Homo sapiens: one gene and its partner. The protein of the gene in region 2 interacts with the protein of the main gene of each other region in a biochemical or structural test. Each region holds a gene or a part of one and is shown on either strand. Other genes may lie near its edges.

Region 1 (3,752 bases), about 170 Mb from region 2:
AAAAATGCTTTTCGACATTTCCTGAGTGGGAATTTTAAATGAAAATCTGTTCTGATTTGTGATAATATACATATATCACTTCATTGAGATTATTATTCTTTATAATTTACTTTTTATTATCATAAGCTTTAAAGGGATGGTAACTTGATAAACATTTTCTGTACTAAGACAAATGCTGCAAATATATAGATTTTTAAAAAATTCACCTTTGCAATAAAAAGCAAAACAGCCACAACAACAACAACAAAAATCTTATGTTGTTTTTCTTTCCTCTTTCTTTCCTCTCCAAATAGAAATTGTCAATGTAACATGCTCAAGAGGTAGCTACTTCCCTGACTTTCAGAGGAAAGAAGAACGGTAAAAGTCAAAAAAAGACTTCAAAGTGAATTGTAATAAGCAAGTTGTTTTAAAATACTTTTTATACTTTTTGGAATTTCTACAAAAATTTTATTTTCAATGTCCTTTTAGATACTACATCATAAAGAGAAATATTAAATATTAATTATTAGTTACATTCTATAATCTATTGAAATGTACTCATGATTCATATTGACGCCGCTCAAGAACTATCCATTGAATAGACCATAAATGTGCAAAGATTTCAAACTTTAATAGGCACTGGAAGTCCAACTAGTTGCATTTTCCTACTGAATACAGCATTTGCATGATTTTTAAGAGTTTAAATATTTCTATCTCATCAAGGCTGTAATATTTACCCACCACCCAGGAAGGGCGGTGGCTCCACAAGAATTTCTAAAGCAAAAATGTATTAAAACTATTAACAAGAAACTAAAAACTTGATTTAAAATACATTCTGTGATAAAAATTGCAGAAAGTTAATATTTTACTAAATATCTCAATATATTTTTGAACTATTATATACCCAAGTATTCAATAAAATATGTCAATTAAATTCAAAATTTGAGGAAGCAAACTTCAGGTCTGAAAAGAGGGAGTGGCTTACATACAACCAAAGCTGTTTTATGACTTTTTAAAAGATCAAATTTGTTAAAAGAATAAAAACTCACTTATTTTATCATTAAAAAATTCTCAGGCTTTTATAAATGTGTGTTATTGTCACTTTGGAAGTTAAGTAATAATGTTGCTTTTGTAATATCTTTGAACAGTTGTAAATAAAGATACAGATAGACATTGCTTTCCTTTTAAAATTGTATTTTTTGTCCCGAAACATTTATGTCTTTGTAAACAGAAACAATGTATTCTGTCACACAACTAGCTATGTCTCCCTGAGACAACAATCTTGATGGTTTACAGCAGGCTTCTCACTTCCAGTTACCAACACATTTAAATTATTTTTATGTCTATTTCAAACATTCCTCCAAAAGAGAAAAAATAATTTAAAAAATATTAATATCCTTGTACTTACCTGTCACAAATACTTCTGTGTCCAGAAAGGCAAAGCCAAATGCCAAGAGTTTAAGCCACAAATACATGGTCATATCTGGAAGTCAGCCGTGTCCCTAAGAAACAGCATGCGTCCTTCTGAAAAGCAAAATAATTGTTATCTCTGTAGAAGTTTTTCTCTGTAAAAACGAATCAAAAATGTAAAAGTAAATAAATAAATGCATACTCTCCACTGTTGTCTTATCAGACGAGGAACAATTTCCTCCTCTGTTACCCTAAGAACAAACCACTTGCTAGCTGCATGAACTGCTAGGTGATGATGTCAGATTCGGTTTTACTAACTTCTCCAAAAATACTGTAAGGGTCCTCTTTGCAGGAAGTCAAAAAAGTTGTTCTAAGTCAGTAGAATGGCATTGCACTTCCTTAATTCAAGTAATTACACCAAGTTAGAAAGCCTTTTAAAAGATTTTCCCATCAAGGAAGATGTTTTTAAACCATCCAAATAATGCTCCTTTACAGTATCCATTACCATTTTTTTTAAATTAAATCCCCACAAAATAATCAATAATTTTCTTACTTAAGAGATGACAAACAGATTCAGCATAAGTATAACAAAATGGGTGTTGGCAAGATGACTTAGTAGAAAGTATCAATATTTGACTTACTGAGACGGCCAAATGAATGAAAAAACTACTAATCTGGTTATTTTTGGCAACCCAGTATCATTTACCATTAGGGCATTCAAAACTCAGCAATATGACAGTTTTAGCAGTAAAACCCATTTCTTATGCAAAAGCACTTTCAGACAGCTTAACAGTTTTGCCCCAAATCTTTCACAGATATCCTTGTGAAGCTAGGAGTGGAATCAGAATGTCATTTCTACTATAGTTACAGCAAACCCTGCTTCCAAAAACTAATGTTTCTGTGACTTAAGATGTTCTTGGCGCTACTGATGAGGGAAAGGACAGTGAAAACCAAGAGATACCTTTAACAAAAGTTAACTTGTTTCCTTTTTCTCAGCAATACTTTTTCAACTTTTTTAACAAATAAGACAATGAATTGTATTAACACAATGCTCTTCACCATTCTGATGTTCTTAGTTAAGTCCATCTATTAGGAAAATGCTTACTGGCAAAAAGTATAAATTCAACAATACAATTAGATGAATTGGTTTTATTAATACAATATCTATATGCCTTTAAAAATAAAAGTACACACATGTGCAACTCATTTATTTGAACAATAGATAATGCTTGGGGGACTTTTAGACAGACAGAGCCCTTGTGGTAATTCTGCAAACCCTAGTTTGGAAGCATTATTGTAGGGTTCTTATATTTAAGTAAATAAATCTTTTGATACTTACAAACTTTTTTGTTTTACTCTTACATTGGCTGCTAGGAACTACAGAGCCAAATTTCTATCACACTTTGTGCAAATGGAAATAACCCCACAGCTTAAACTCTAGGTAATAACCTTTTAATAAGATTGTAGTTAAGAATATTATTTTACTATGATTATTATTATATTTAACTTATGGAGCACTTACTATGTGCAGGAACTATGCTTTGCACTTTACATATATTGTATAATTTGTACGATACCCTTGAGCTAGATAATGTTATTATTCCCCATTTTATCTGTGATGTTCAGAGAGGTTAGTTGAGTTGCCTAAGATCTTGCAGCTAGGATGTAGACAAGCTATATTTAGAACCCAAGTCTCCAAGTTTAATTTTGCTTTCCTTACTCACCTTACTATTGCCCTTTATTTTTCTCATCCCTTTTACCAATCTTTTTGTACTATGTAAGTTTATAATACTCGAAAAGATAGACCTTTGAATCAGTGAAAATGAAATTATTCTCTTTTTGCAAATGTATTTTTAAATAAGATAACTGTGCAAGTAAGCACTAATTTTCATGTGGGTAGGCCTAATAAAACATCAGTGTCAGAACTCATGGATTTGAATACTCAGCTCCTCAGCCTATGTCTTAAAATACATTTGCAACAGAAAACTCTTTGGGGATTTGCTTTAAATATCTTTAAGCAAATACTTGTGTTCTGTGAGCTTGCTGTTATGGCAGAATATTTGGCAAAATTAGAGGCCAGGAGAAAAGTGTATATGATCTTTTAAAAGGAAGAAAAGTATATAAAATATACTCTATAACAATGTGAGTTTAGCAGCCTTAAACGGACATTTTAAAAGGGATTTGTGGCTTTAAAAAAATAGTAAGAAGTTAGGAGATTCAATTCCATTTCAGACAGGTGAGAAGACAGATTCTACCCAAGGAATCCAAGATAGATTAGCAACAAATGAGTTGCATTATATGTGTTAATCCAACACATATATAATGTTTTAACATATTCATTGTGTTAAAATTGAGTTTAGTGT
Region 2 (3,752 bases):
ATTACTGATTTACATGTCAGCCCCAGGGTCCCACTGCCTCTCCCATACCTTTGATGAGAGTGGGGGTTCATCAAGAGCAGAAGCTGTAGTTTATTTGTCTGAAAGCCACCAGCACCCAAAATTAGTTAATAAATGTCAACTGGAACATGCAGTGTTAATGCATAGAGTCTCCCATCTGCAAAGGTCTTAGAAACCAGCAAGCCTAATCTCCAATTTTATTATTTGTTGATTTATTTTTGAGATAAAGTGTCACTCTCTTGCCCAGACTGCAGTGCAATGACCCAATCCTAACTCACTGGAACCTCAAACTCCTGGGCTCAAGTGATCCTCTAACTTCAGCCTCCTGGGTAGCTGGCACCACTGAGCCCAGGTGATTTTTTATTTGTTCTAGAGATGGGGGTATTGCTATGTTGCCCGGACTGGTCTCAAATTCTTGGCTTCAAGTGATCCTTCCTTCTTGGCCTCCCAAAGTGCTGGGATTACAGGCATGAGCTGCCATACCTGGCTAAACCTCTGATTTTAGATGAGCAAACTGAGGCCCACAGAGGTATGCTTAAAGTCACACAACCTATTTGGAGTAGAGCAAAGCTGGAGTTGCTGGCCGGGCGTGGTGGCTCACATCTGTAATCGCGGCACTTTGGGAGACTGAGGCAGTAAGACCATTCAAACTCAGAAGTTCCAGACTAGCCTGGGCAACATAGTGAGACCTCATCTCTAGAAAAAAAATCAAAAAATTAGCCAGGTGTGATGGGGCATGCCTGTAGTTCCAGCTACTTGGGAGGCTGAGGCAAAAAGATCACTTGAGCCCAGGAGCTCAAGGCTGCAATGAGCTACGATTGTGCCACTGCACTCCAGCCTGGATAACAGAGCGAGAGCCTGTCTCAAAAAAAAAAAAAAAAAGGCCAGGCGCGGTGGCTCACACCTGTAATCCCAGCACTTTGGGAGGCCAAGGCGGGTGGGTCACAAGATTAAGGGATCGAGACCATCCTGGCCAACATGGTGCAACCCTGCCTCTACTAAAAATCCAAAAATTAATCGGGCTTGGTGGCAGGTGCCTGTAATCTCAGCTACTCAGGAGGCTGAGGCAGGAGAATCGCTTAAACCCAGGAGGTAGAGGTTGCAGTGAGCCGGAATTGCGCCATTGCACTCCAGCCTGGCAACAGAGTGAGATTCCGTCCGTCTCAAAAAAAAAAAAAAAAAAAAAAAAAAGTCCGGGCACGATGGCTCATTCCTGTAATCCCAGCACTTTGGGAGGCTGAGGCGGGTGGATCACGAGGTCAGGTGTTCAAGACCAGCCTGACCAACATGGTGAAACCCCGTGTCTACTAAAAATACAAAAATTAGCCAGGCATGGTGGCACACGCCTGTAATCCCAGCTACTCAGGAGGCTGAGGCAGGAGAATCACTTGAACCCGGGAGGCAGAGGTTGCAGTGAGCCGAGATCAAGCCACTGCACTCCAGCCTGGATGACAGAGCGAGACTCCATCTCAAAAGAGCAGGCTGGGCACGGTGGCTCATGCTTGTAATCCCAGCACTTTGGGAGGCCAAGGTGGGTGGATCACCTGGGGTCAGAAGTTCAAGACAACCAGCCTGGCCAACAATGGTGAAACCCTGTCTCTACTAAAAATACAAAAAAAAAAAAAAAAAAAAAGTTAGCTGGGCATGGTGGCTGGAGAATTGCTTGAACTCAAGAGGTGGAGGTTGCAGTGAGCCTAGATCCTGCCACTGCCACCGCACTGTTCACTCCAACTTGGGTGACAGAGACTCTGTCTAAAAAGAAAAAACAAAAGAGAGACAGAGAGAGAGAATTCATGCTGGGTCTAAGTGGAAGCAGGGAGCAGTGGAAGTTTCTCATTAGCAAAACTCAGAAGACTGTCCCCATAGTTAGAGACCTAAGTTCAAATAGCAATTTTGACACTTACTGTGTGACTTTGCTGAAATCATTCCTCCTAAGCCTCACTTTTCCTCTTCTGTCAAATGGGGCTCTTCATCCATTTCTCATAAGCTCACATGAATGTTAGCTTAGTTTAGTGCTTAGAAACACTTTCACCAGTGCACAATTCTGTCCTACCAACTCCTGCTTTGGAAGGTGGAAGAATGGGACTGGGTAATTAATCTCCTTTGCTTTAGACTCCTGTTTCTTTCTTTTTTCTTTTTTTAATAGAGTCTCGGCTGGGCGCGGTGGCTCATGCCTGTAATCCCAGCACTTTGGGAGGCTGAGGAGGGCAAATCACATGGTCAGGAGTTCGAGACAAGCCTGGCCAACATGGTGAAACCCTGTCTCTACTAAAAATACAAAAATTAGCTGGGCGTGGTGGTGCGCGCCTGTAATCCCAGCTTCTTGGGAGGCTGAGGCAGGAGAATTGCTTGAACCATGGAGGTGGAGGTTGCAGTGAGCTGAGACCACGCCATTGCACTCTAGCCTAGGTGACAGAGCAAGATACCATCTCAAAAGAAAAAAAAACAGACAGAATCTCACTCTGTCACCTAGGCTGGAGTTCAGTGGTGTGAACTTGGCTCACTGGAACCTCCACCTCCCAGGTTCAAGTGATTCTCCTGCCTCAGCCCCCTGACTAGCTAGGACTACAGGCATGTGTCACCACGCCCAGCTAATTTTTGTAATTTTAGTAGAGATGGGGGTTTCACCATGTTGGCCAGGGTGGTCTTGAACTCCTGACCTCAAGTGATCCACCCACCTCAGCCTCCCAAAGTGCTGGGATTACAGGCGTGAACCACCATGCCCAGCCTAGACTCCTGTTTCTTTTCTCTCTTTCCTTTTTTTTTTTTTTTTAGACTTGCTCTGTTGCCCAGGCTGGAGTGCAGTGGTGTGATCTGGGCTCACTGCAAGCTCTGTCTCTCCTCCCTCAGCCTCCCTAAGCAGGTGGGACTACAGGCGTGCACCACCACGCCTGGCTAATTTTTGTATTTTGTGTTTTGTATTTTTAGTAGAGACAGAGTTTTGCCACGTTGGCCAGGCTGGTCTCGAACTCCTGACCTCAGCCTCCCAAAGTGCTGGGATTACAGGCAATGAGCCACTGTGCCCAGCCCTAGACTCCTGTTTCTTTTCTTTTCTTTTTTTTTTTTTTTTGAGACGGAGTTTTGCTCTTGTTGCCCAAGCTGGAGTGCAATGGCACGATCTCGGCCCACCGCAACCTCTGCCTCCCAGGTTCAAGCGATTCTCCTACCTCAGTCTCCCAAGTAGCTGGGATTACAGGCATGTGCCACCACGCCCGGCTAATTTTGTATATTTATTTATTTACTTATTTATTTATTTACTTTTATGGGTATCTGGTAAGTATATATGTTTATGGGGTACATGATATATTTTGATAGAGGCATACAATGTGTAATAATCACAAAAGGGATAAATGAGCTATCCATCACCTCAAGCAAGCCTCTTATTATTATTATTATTATAAAAACTAGCTGGGCATGGTGGTGCATGCCTATAATCCCAGGTGCTTGGGAGGCTGAGGCAGGAGGATCACTTGAGCCCAGGAGTTCAAGGCCACAGTGAGCTACGATTGCACCACTGCACTCCAGCCTGGGTGACAGAACAAGACCCCTTGTCTAAAGTAAATAAATAAATGAATAATAATAATAAATTTTTTTAAGTTTTGAAAAGAAGCCCAACATACTGCCAGGCATTTGCATTTCTCTTTCTGCATTTGCATTTCTCTCATTACTTTTTTCTTTTTTATTTTTTTTGAGACAGAGTCTCACTCTGTCTCCCAGGCTGGAGTGCAGTGGCG

The links. The genes of interacting proteins can lie anywhere in the genome.
Region 1: of the proteins of LCK (region 2) and PTPRC, one has a biochemical effect on the other in vitro, tested with the Homo sapiens proteins (5 studies listed by BioGRID and IntAct, with this or other methods).

The regions. Positions count from the first base shown.
Region 1 is NC_000001.11:198,636,977-198,640,728, reverse strand, and holds the start of PTPRC (receptor-type tyrosine-protein phosphatase C isoform 1 precursor), read right to left. Parts: upstream 1,690-3,752; 5' UTR 1,592-1,689; intron 1,504-1,591; 5' UTR 1,461-1,503; coding exon 1,388-1,460; intron 1-1,387. UniProt on the Homo sapiens protein: Protein tyrosine-protein phosphatase required for T-cell activation through the antigen receptor. Acts as a positive regulator of T-cell coactivation upon binding to DPP4.
Region 2 is NC_000001.11:32,268,150-32,271,901, reverse strand, and holds part of LCK (tyrosine-protein kinase Lck), read right to left. Parts: intron 1-3,752. UniProt on the Homo sapiens protein: Non-receptor tyrosine-protein kinase that plays an essential role in the selection and maturation of developing T-cells in the thymus and in the function of mature T-cells. Plays a key role in T-cell antigen receptor (TCR)-linked signal transduction pathways.